Homo sapiens: one gene and its partners. The protein of the gene in region 3 purifies or fractionates together with the protein of the main gene of each other region. This does not show direct contact. Each region holds a gene or a part of one and is shown on either strand. Other genes may lie near its edges. The genes, in order: KRT82, KRT85 and PLEKHB2.

Region 1 (3,062 bases), on a different chromosome or scaffold from region 3:
GGGGAAAGCACCCCCCAGGAGGGGCTGTTTCAGGGGGTCGGTGAGGCAGAGGAAAGGGGACTGAGGCCTCACAGAGGGTGGAAGCACCGCCGCCAAATCTCCAGGTCTTGGGCTCTCTAAATGGGGAGAGGAGACTGGAGTGTCCTGGTCCTCCTCACTCCATGGGCTGCCACCATCTTCACTGCTTTCCTGGAGCTGGGGGTATCCAGGCACTGAGAATGGTTCGGGATAGGGACAGAGCCTAGGGCTTGGGGGCTGCTAAGTCTAGACACAATAGAGGACCCCAAGGATTTTCTCTAGGATGTGTATAGGACACCATGTAGTGAGGAGGCCTGTGTGCAATGGGCTTGTGGCTTTTAACATGGCAAGTGACTTGCAAACCATTGGGGTGTGACGTGCAGGTTTTAAGTGTGATTTGTATAGAGCCCTATTTCTTCCACAGGCAATTTGCAAATTATTTACATGTAGTGTTTCTGTTTGTATAATAGTCTTCATTTCTGTTCCGAAGACTCCAGTCCCAAAAAGCTGCTCACCAGTTCCCCCTCAGCCTTATCACACTTTCCACAGAGCAGAGTAAATAATCCTGATTGCTATAATCCATGAACAGAGTAGGTTTATTTTGAACAGAAGCCCAGATGTTCAGGGCAGAGGCCCTGGAGCCCCAGTGGGACAGGCTTGGCATGAGGGGCTTCTGGGAGGTAGTCAGCCCACACCTCCTCCATCTATGAGCTCCTGAGCCAGGGCCTCCAAGTCAGCTGGGGCAGCCCCACATCACTGTCATATCAGACTCAAAGCAAAAGGAGCTAAAGGGTTGGGGAACAGGAAGGGGCGGCTATGTACAGAAGGGGATGGGTGGAGGGGGAACTGATTCCATTGAGAAAATGGTATCTGTTTTTGGTTTTCCAACTGTCCAGTAAACATTCCATATCCCTTTGCCCTTTGTTCTAGGCATTGGCCTGACATCACCTGCCAATGTGAGCTCAGGAGAAAGATTTATTCTCACAGTTTGGGTTCAACATACCTGAGAAAGTAAATCTACTGCCCAAAGGCCACCTCTTGATTCTCTGTGCTGAGAGGACATTGGCAGGTCCTGACTGATCCTGAAATCGTGGCACTTGGCTTTGGAATTTAGAGTGGGATTTGGGGGTGTCTCCTTTTGATATTTGCAGTGTGCATGTTTCAGGCGGTGTTAAAGGAAATTCACTTTTCTTAGGGGCATGAGAGCCTAAAGTAAGGGCAGTGTGAGCCTGTGGTGGGAGAGGAGCTGACTTTGTGAGGAAACTTCCATGGGATGATCCACAGAGCAGAACTGTGGTGTGCCCATTTGACCTTTTGGGGGTTATTGCCATTCTGCGGTTAAGAGCAATGCATGCTCTTTCTCTGCCGTCTGTCCCCACCATCTGGGCCTAGCTGAGGGTCTGCACACAGGTGAGTGGAAGGTGACTCATGAGGCAAAGGAGGGGTCCTAGGGGCAGCTCAGCTCTCAAGGAGGGAACACTGGAGGGGAATGTGGAGTCAATAAAGGGAGGTGGGGTTTTGGAACATCCTTGTCTTCAGCCCTGGTGGGAGTGTGACATCCAGGGCCATGGGGCAGGGGCTCTGTCTCCTGGATGTCTCGGATCATGCTAATGCTTGTGGCTGGGGGAGCTGCCCCCAGCTCCTAGCGTCATGCTGGATTTCCGCCCGCTCCCACAGCTCAGTAGCCCCTGGGGCTCGCAGGGGACATAGAGTTCACCAGTGCCCACGATGCTGCAGCCCCCATTGCTCCTGAGGACGCCAGTGCTGAGGACAGGCGTGCTGACCCCACATGGCTCGTACAGGAAGGCGCCTTTGGAGCTGCTCACTGCTGTGGGAACAGGAAGGGGTGCTCAGGGCCCCACACGGTGTGGCTCTCAGTGTACTGCCCTGAAACTACTCAGCCAGGCCATTCCTCCCACCTCCTGCCACTCACCTCTACAGACACCCCATTCCAGCCTCCAGCCTCCGCGTCTCCCACCCTAGCCACATAAAGTGCTTGCAAGGTCCCCATGCACCTCTCTCCTTTCCCTAGAGCCTGGGCAAGGCCAGGCTGGATTCAGCTTCACCATTTCTCAGTTTCTACTGGTCCCTCCTTCCTAAGCTTGCTTCAAATCCTCTTCCTCTAGAAGAGCATCCTCTTGTCAGGGTGGTTATTTGTGGCTTCTGGGCCCTGAAGCACTTGGACCATGTTGTTGCAAATCTGCTCCTAGTCTGACTCCCAAAAGATTTGGATAGCCCTTTCCACCAGCCTGGGAGCTCACGGCAGACAGAGCTCTTCCTTTGGGGTAGGGGAGGCATCAGAGGTCTAGGAAGGGGTGGTGTGGGCTGCCTGTGTTGGGGTGATCAACCCCCAAGACTCCAGAGCCAGTGGGGCATGGCTCATCTACTTACAGATATTCACGGGCCCGATGCCTTCGCACAGCCTGGGGATGAGAGGAAAAAGAAAACAGGTATCTACATCAAACAGATGCAGGTAAATGCAGCATCTCCCCGCTCCCGCCCTCATTGTGGACCATGTGCTGCTGTGGGTTTTCAATGAATGTGGGTAGGGGACGGGGTGAGAGATACTAGCAGCCGCCACCAGAGGGCTGGGTAATGGCCATACCTGGTAGCCCATCTTTGACCCCCTCCTGGAGGAGCTCACCTGTGCTCTTCACCCTCCAGCAGGCGCCTGTAGGTGGCGATCTCGATGTCCAGGCCCAGCTTGGAGTTCATCACCTCCTGATATTCCTTGAGCAGGCAGGCCATGTCCTGCTTGGCCTTCTGCAGAGCCTCCTCCAGCCCTGCCAGCTTGCACTTGGCATCATTGAGAGCCGCCTCGCCCTGCTGCTCTGCCTCAGCTATGGCACCCTCAAGTTTGCAGCGCTGTGGGAGGGGCGCAGAAAAGCATCACTGGGGGCCCTGGAGCCCCAAGCCAGACTCGCAGAAGAGCAGAGAGAACACGGGGGTGGCTACGTGCCAGGCTCACATTTGCGAGCTTCATCCTAGGATTGCGACATCTGGTTCCTCCAGGGAACTGGGATGGGTTTTCTGTCTAAAATACC
Region 2 (2,645 bases), on a different chromosome or scaffold from region 3:
AATGCATATAGAAGTGCATCATCATCATAACACACAGGCCTGTGTGGCAGCAGCTTCAGTAGGAAGCTATTCAACAAGGACGGATTTGGGAGGCATGAGACTTGGGTGCAGGTCCCAGCTCTTCTGCTTATTAACTGCGTAGCCATGATAAAGGCACTGAATTCTGAGCCTGCTTCTTTATCTAAAGATAAAAAGATGGGAAAAACCATATCTATCTTATTGGATTGTGAGGATTATAAAATAAACACTTAGCACAGGTCTAGCACAGAAGCATTCAGTTATTATTATTATTATTATTGAAGCTATTGTATTAGCCATGGCCAGAGTTGTAGCTCACACTCAGCTCAAGGAAATTCACTCCTGGAGGACCACAGCCTCCACCTCTGAAACCCCACAAAGTCCTCTTAGCCCCACCTGTGTTCCTCGCCCTCCAGCAGGCGCCTGTAGGTGGCGATCTCGATGTCCAGGCCCAGCTTGGAGTTCATCACCTCCTGGTACTCCTTGAGCAGGCAGGCCATGTCCTGCTTGGCCTTCTGCAGGGCGCCCTCCAGCTCAGCCAGCTTGCAGCGGGCATCGCTGAGGGCCGCCTCACCCTGCTGCTCTGCCTCAGCCACAGCAGCCTCCAGCTTGGCACGCTATCAGGTGGAGATACAAGGGCCAGGATGAGAAAGAGAAGCCACAGCTTGGCTCACCCAAGCTGATGGAGCCAGGGCAGGGAGAGGAGGGTCCTGGAGAGAAGGTTGGCCCGTGGCCAGGTAGTTAATGGGGCTGTGAATATGAGGGAGGAGATGGGTGGGCTTTTCATCATCTCTCCTTGATGGCGGTCACAGGGTGGCCAAGGAAGGGGCTGGATCCTCCTTTGGAAGTCAGTGACATGGTCTGATTGCTGTGAAATATGATAGAGCCCCTCCCTTCCCTCTGGGTCCCTGCTTCCTCATGGGCACACTGTGAAGCCTGATTAGGGCCAGGTGCTGCAGCCTGCCTGTGCTGCGTATTTGAATCCTCCACAGACCCCACCTGGCACTTGGCATTCTCAATCTCGGCCGTCAGCCTCTGGATCATGCGGTTCAGCTCGTTGATCTCCTCCTTGGTGCGGCGCAGGGTCTCCCCATGCCTGATCACCGTGGCCTTCATCTCCTCACACTGGAGGAAGTAGAGATGCTCATGAGGCTCAGGGTGGGGCCCCCCATCCATTCAGGACACCACAGATGACTATACAGGTTGTACGGTGCTCAGCCTGTGCAACCACACATGGCAGTCCTGCCCTGCCACTTCAACCTGAGAACTACTGGCTTTTCTCATACTGTCCTCATGGGTCAGAATCCCCAGGCAAGAGAAATCTTTTCTAATAGATGCCTAACTTCCCTCCCACTGCCATGCTTAGCAGGCAGGTGTCCTGTGCCACTCACCTTGCTACGGTACCAGGACTCAGCCTCGGCCCGGCTGCGGCTGGCAACATCGTCATACTGAGCCTTGATCTCAGCGATGATGCAGTCCATGTTCAGGTCTCGGCTGTTGTCCATCTTGACTATGACCGAGGTGTCTGAGATGTGGGCTTGGAGAACGCGGATCTCCTGTGGGGCCAACAGCCAGTGCATTTGCTTCTAGTGCCTGATCTGGGCCACGTGATCCACCCCAGGGGACAATGTCCACTTCCCAGACCGGGCACTGGTCATGAAGGTTACATGACTCCTGCTCCTACCACCTTCACTCATGCACAGGCTCCTTAAAAACAACAAAGCTGAAAGGGGCTGTAGAGGCCATCTGGGAACAGTGTCTGCCTTAAAAGTGGGAAAACTGAGGCCCAGAGGGTGAAAAAGATCTGGTCCAAAGTCACCCAGCAGGGGAGCTGGGGTTTGGAGGCTAGGATGAGTGATTAGTCAGTCCATTAATGAGGACCATGCCCTATGTGCGAAGCCATCCTGACCCCCACCACACATGCACACTCTCTTGCCCATCTGTAGACTGGCACTCACACAGGCAGCACACCAACATGCAGAGAGGTCACAGACACAGAGCAGCCCAAGAACATGTACACCCCATGCTCCTCTCACACATGAACGTGGACATGGCCTCTGTATTGTGGGCCCCAGCACGTATGTGCAAGCTCTTTTCACACTTACATTGCACATTGGCAAACATAGGCACACACATGCACCCTTGCCTCACTGCTCCCCTGTCTCCAAAACACCCCTCCACCTGCCCTGGCTGGGTGGCAGTTGCCCCCTTACCTCTTCATAGAGGCGCCTCAGGAAGCTAGACTCCTCCACCAGGGCCTCCACATTGGCCTCCAGGTCTGATTTCCGCAGGTAGGCACAGTCCACGTCCTGGCCGTGGGACAAAGAGGAGGGGACATGCATGTGAGAGGAGACCAAAGAAAGGTGCCTTTGGTCAGCATGGTGACCCTGCCCCTCGCTGGAGTTTGCACTGATGGGCCCCCTCCTCCTTGCCCCATGACCAGCCCCTCACCTTCTTTAGAACGACAAACTCATTCTCTGCTGTGGCTCTCAGGGCCACCTCCTCTTCATACCTGGGTGTGGGAGAGAGAAGGTCTGGAGCTGAGAAACTGGACCTTGAATACCATCCCAACTCCTGGGCAAGTTCTTCCGGGGATTGAAAAGGGATTAATCCCCTCCAGATGTTGT
Region 3 (3,657 bases):
ACCCCTTACTTTTCTTACTGACCCTATCCCTCTTATCTTCATCAATTCCTTTTATGTTTTATTCTCATTTTACTATCTCCCTGAGTTGAAAGATTCATTCACTTATTTTCAAGTGTTCTGGCTTTCTTTTTTTTTTTTTTTTTTTTTTTTTTTTGAGATGGAGTCTCACTCTGTTGTCCAGGCTGGAGTACAGTGGTGTGATCTTGGCTCACCGCAACCTCCACCTCCCAGGTTCACGCCATTCTCCTGCCTCAGCCTCCCAAGTAGCTGGGATTACAGGTGCCTGCCACCACGCCTGGCTAATTTTTGTATTTTTAGTAGAGACGAGGTTTCACCATGTTGGCCAGGCTGGTCTCGAACTCCTGACCTCAGGTGATCCATCCGCCTTGACCTCCCAAAGTGCTGGGATTACAAGCTTGAGCCACCACACCCAGCCCAAGTGTTCTAGCTTTCTAAGGAATGCAGTTAAGTTGCAAAATTCCCCAACTGATTTTGTATGTGGCATACCATTGTCATTCACTTTGCTAAAGGGTATCATACTGGATTATTCATATATCTTATATAGATTTTGTTGTCATATCAGGTGGAAGAGTCTAGTAGGGACTTTGGTCTGCCAATTCAGTTCGATTATTTCAGAACATTTTTCTTGCCTTAGATTTGTAATTCTCTCTTTTGGGTTGTACACTTTATGGACATCAATAATCTTTCTGAACTTTTTTTAGTCTAACATATCTCTGATCTTTTCATCTTTTTCCTGTCACTGAGAGTATCTCCAGTCTTTTCTTCCATGCCAATGATTCACTTTTCATTTGGGGTTGTATTGAAGGGAAGACCACTTTCTTCAGATTATAACGTGAATGGCACCCTCTTGACAGCAACAGACCTTCTAAGTTACAGACACAAAAGAGCAGAAAAGAAACATAAATCTCTGCCCTCACACAGCATATATTCTAATGAAAGCAGATGATGAACAAGATAAATAGTTGATAGATGGTGAGTGTGTATGGGGACAGGGAGATACAATTTTAAATATGGTGGCCAGGAAAGCATTCCTGAAGACTCTGCTCCTGTTTCTTGGGTTTTATTTTCCTCCACTCTAGGAGCTTTTCCTGAGGCTTGCATTTTCCTTTTCTTATTTTTCCTTCATGGTATATCTGCATAGTTGCCAAGCCACTTCTTTACATCCTGCTCACGTTTAACATGGGAAGTGATATCTAAAACTGCTGTTTGCTCTCATAAAGTATGAGTTATTTCTCCTTGACACGCTTCCTACCTAATCTGGTATCAACTGGTAGTTCCACCCTGTTCTACCTCAGTCCAGCCCAGCAACAGTTTGATGGCTAGGTGTTACCCTCACAATCAACATTCTGTAATCTGAGGGCACAGGGCTAGAAGAGAAGGACATTTCTTCTGAGACCGAGTAAGTCTTTTCTGAAAACTCTGGGTCCTACACTCTCTTCTGAGCATATTCCTTTGAATGTCCCATGCTAGGGCTCACTTCACCAGACAGAAAATTACCCAACTCCTGTGAGCTTCAGTGCCTTTCACTGCCCTGCAATGATGAGTCCTGGGAGAACCGTCCAGCCTCTGCTGAGGCCCCAAGGACATCACATTCTTAAGGATTTTTTCCCTAGCTTTTCCAAAAAGTAACTTACACTTAATCAGCATCACTCCAGATTACAGGGTAATACTGAAAATTTGCAAGATTTAATTAACTCATCTTGTCACTGCTTCTGGGATTCGGGTAGGATTGAAGAACATCTCAGTAGAATCATCTATTTCTTTCTTTAACTGTTTGTAGTTTGTGCTTGAGATCAAACTTCTTTATTTGGTTGCACCATTGAAATGTTTTCCCCTCAGGGAAGATGATCTCTAATCCATTTCACCATCTTTCTCAAAAGTCTCTATTATGGGTTCAATTGTGTCCTCATGAAAAAGATATGTATAAATCCTAATCCCCAGTACCCTCAAATGGGACCTTATGTGGAAATAGGATATTTGCATATGGAATCAAATTAAGATAAGGTCATAGTGAATTAAGGTGGGTCCTTAATCCATTATGATTGGTGTCCTTTATAAGAAAAGAGAATTCTGGACACAGACACAGCCGAAGAAGGCCATGTGACAACAGAGGCAGAGACCGGAGTGATGTGGCTGTCAGCCAAAGAACACCAAGGACTACCAGCAACCACCAGAAGCTAGGAAGAGGCAAGAAAGGATCCTACCCAGCATCTCAGAGGGAGCAAGGATCTGCTGACACACTGATTCCAGACTTCCAGCCTCCAGAACTATGAGACAATGAATTTCTGCCATTTCCGTCACTCAGTGTTCAGCAATTTGTGACAGCAGCCCTAGGAACTGACAGTTTCCTTACTCTTTACTTTCTTGCTTTTCTGGTCATTTTATTTCAACTATGCCCGTTACCCACTGTGAATCTAATAATGAAAGACAGCATGATGAGACTGCTATTCCTTTCTGCCATTTTCACCACAATGGGATCGGCCTAGGCAGTCTGAGAGAGGCAGAAACTAGAATTGGAAAAGCGACTCTTGCATTTCTCTCATACATCCACTGAGTCCCTTATTCTGATGCCTGAAAGAAAACTCCACGCCCTTTCTTTTCATTTTTTGGTAATCAGAAGTTAAAATAGAAAATACTTTTTAAATTAAACACATAAGAAAGCAAAACTTACAAGCAATCATCTGTGCTTTCTGCACAAAGACTAATTGTTTTCCCATCTCGACAAACAATCTGGAGCATGCAGTCTTTTGACTTTCCATCCGGGGGCTGAGTATCTATGAAAAATAAGCAGAATAAAGGAACTTTTTTCAGGATTTCTTCTTACATTTTCTAAGAACTACCAGCTCAGAGAAGCAAAGGACTAGACAATAAATCAAGTGCTACATCTATGAAAGAACCCTCTGCCTTTCCAAGAATGCAGAAAGAACATAGCTAGGCTGACTGACAAGACCAGCTGCCAAGATGACGTCCACAAAATATATTCGGCTCACTGCAACCTCTGACTCCCGGGTTCAAGCAATTCTCTACCTCAGCCTCCTGAGTAGCCAGATTACAGGCACCTGCCACCACACCTGGCTAATTTTTTTGTATTTTTAGTAGAGTTGGGGTTTCACCATCTTGGCCAGGGTGGTCTTGAACTCCTGCCCTCGTGATCCACCCACCTCGGCCTCCCAAAGTGCTGGGATTACAGGCATGAGCCACCATGCCTGGCCAACATCCCAGATTTTAAGCAATTGACTGGAGTCACCATCAAACAGAAGCCAGTTTCTGAGTACAAAATCAACGTAGTCTAGGGTGGCCTGTGCTTCCTGAGGTTCCCAGAGCTCTGGCTCCCTCTCCACGAGAACGAGGGACGTGGACTGAGAACACTGATATTTCCCGACCATGTGGTTCATAATCTAAGTGCCTGGGGCCCCACTGTGGTCGCCCCTCTGAGATGGAGCCCTTCTTCAATCTGTTAATGAAAGCAGAACAGGGAAGGAAGAGGACCAAGCTCCCAGCAAGACAGAGGAAGAGCAGAAGACAGAAGTTGGCCAAGACAGGCCAGCTTACCCCGACATTCCTGCCCCGTGCGGATGTTGATGCAGTCCATTGGCATGTGGACCTTATCCTCGATATTCTGCCGAGTCTGGTCAT

What was found.
Region 1: the proteins of PLEKHB2 (region 3) and KRT82 purify together in Homo sapiens (affinity purification with mass spectrometry; one large-scale study listed by BioGRID and IntAct). This does not show direct contact.
Region 2: the proteins of PLEKHB2 (region 3) and KRT85 purify together in Homo sapiens (affinity purification with mass spectrometry; one large-scale study listed by BioGRID and IntAct). This does not show direct contact.

What each region holds. Positions count from the first base shown.
Region 1 is NC_000012.12:52,393,350-52,396,411, forward strand, and holds the end of KRT82 (keratin, type II cuticular Hb2), read right to left. Parts: intron 2,884-3,062; coding exon 2,663-2,883; intron 2,442-2,662; coding exon 2,410-2,441; intron 1,847-2,409; coding exon 1,626-1,846; 3' UTR 582-1,625; downstream 1-581.
Region 2 is NC_000012.12:52,361,837-52,364,481, forward strand, and holds part of KRT85 (keratin, type II cuticular Hb5), read right to left. Parts: exon of another isoform or gene 2,585-2,645; coding exon of another isoform or gene 2,531-2,584; coding exon 2,470-2,530; intron 2,328-2,469; coding exon 2,232-2,327; intron 1,575-2,231; coding exon 1,410-1,574; intron 1,144-1,409; coding exon 1,018-1,143; intron 636-1,017; coding exon 415-635; intron 1-414.
Region 3 is NC_000002.12:131,125,822-131,129,478, reverse strand, and holds part of PLEKHB2 (pleckstrin homology domain-containing family B member 2), read right to left. Parts: coding exon 3,574-3,657; intron 2,796-3,573; coding exon 2,693-2,795; intron 1-2,692. UniProt on the Homo sapiens protein: Involved in retrograde transport of recycling endosomes.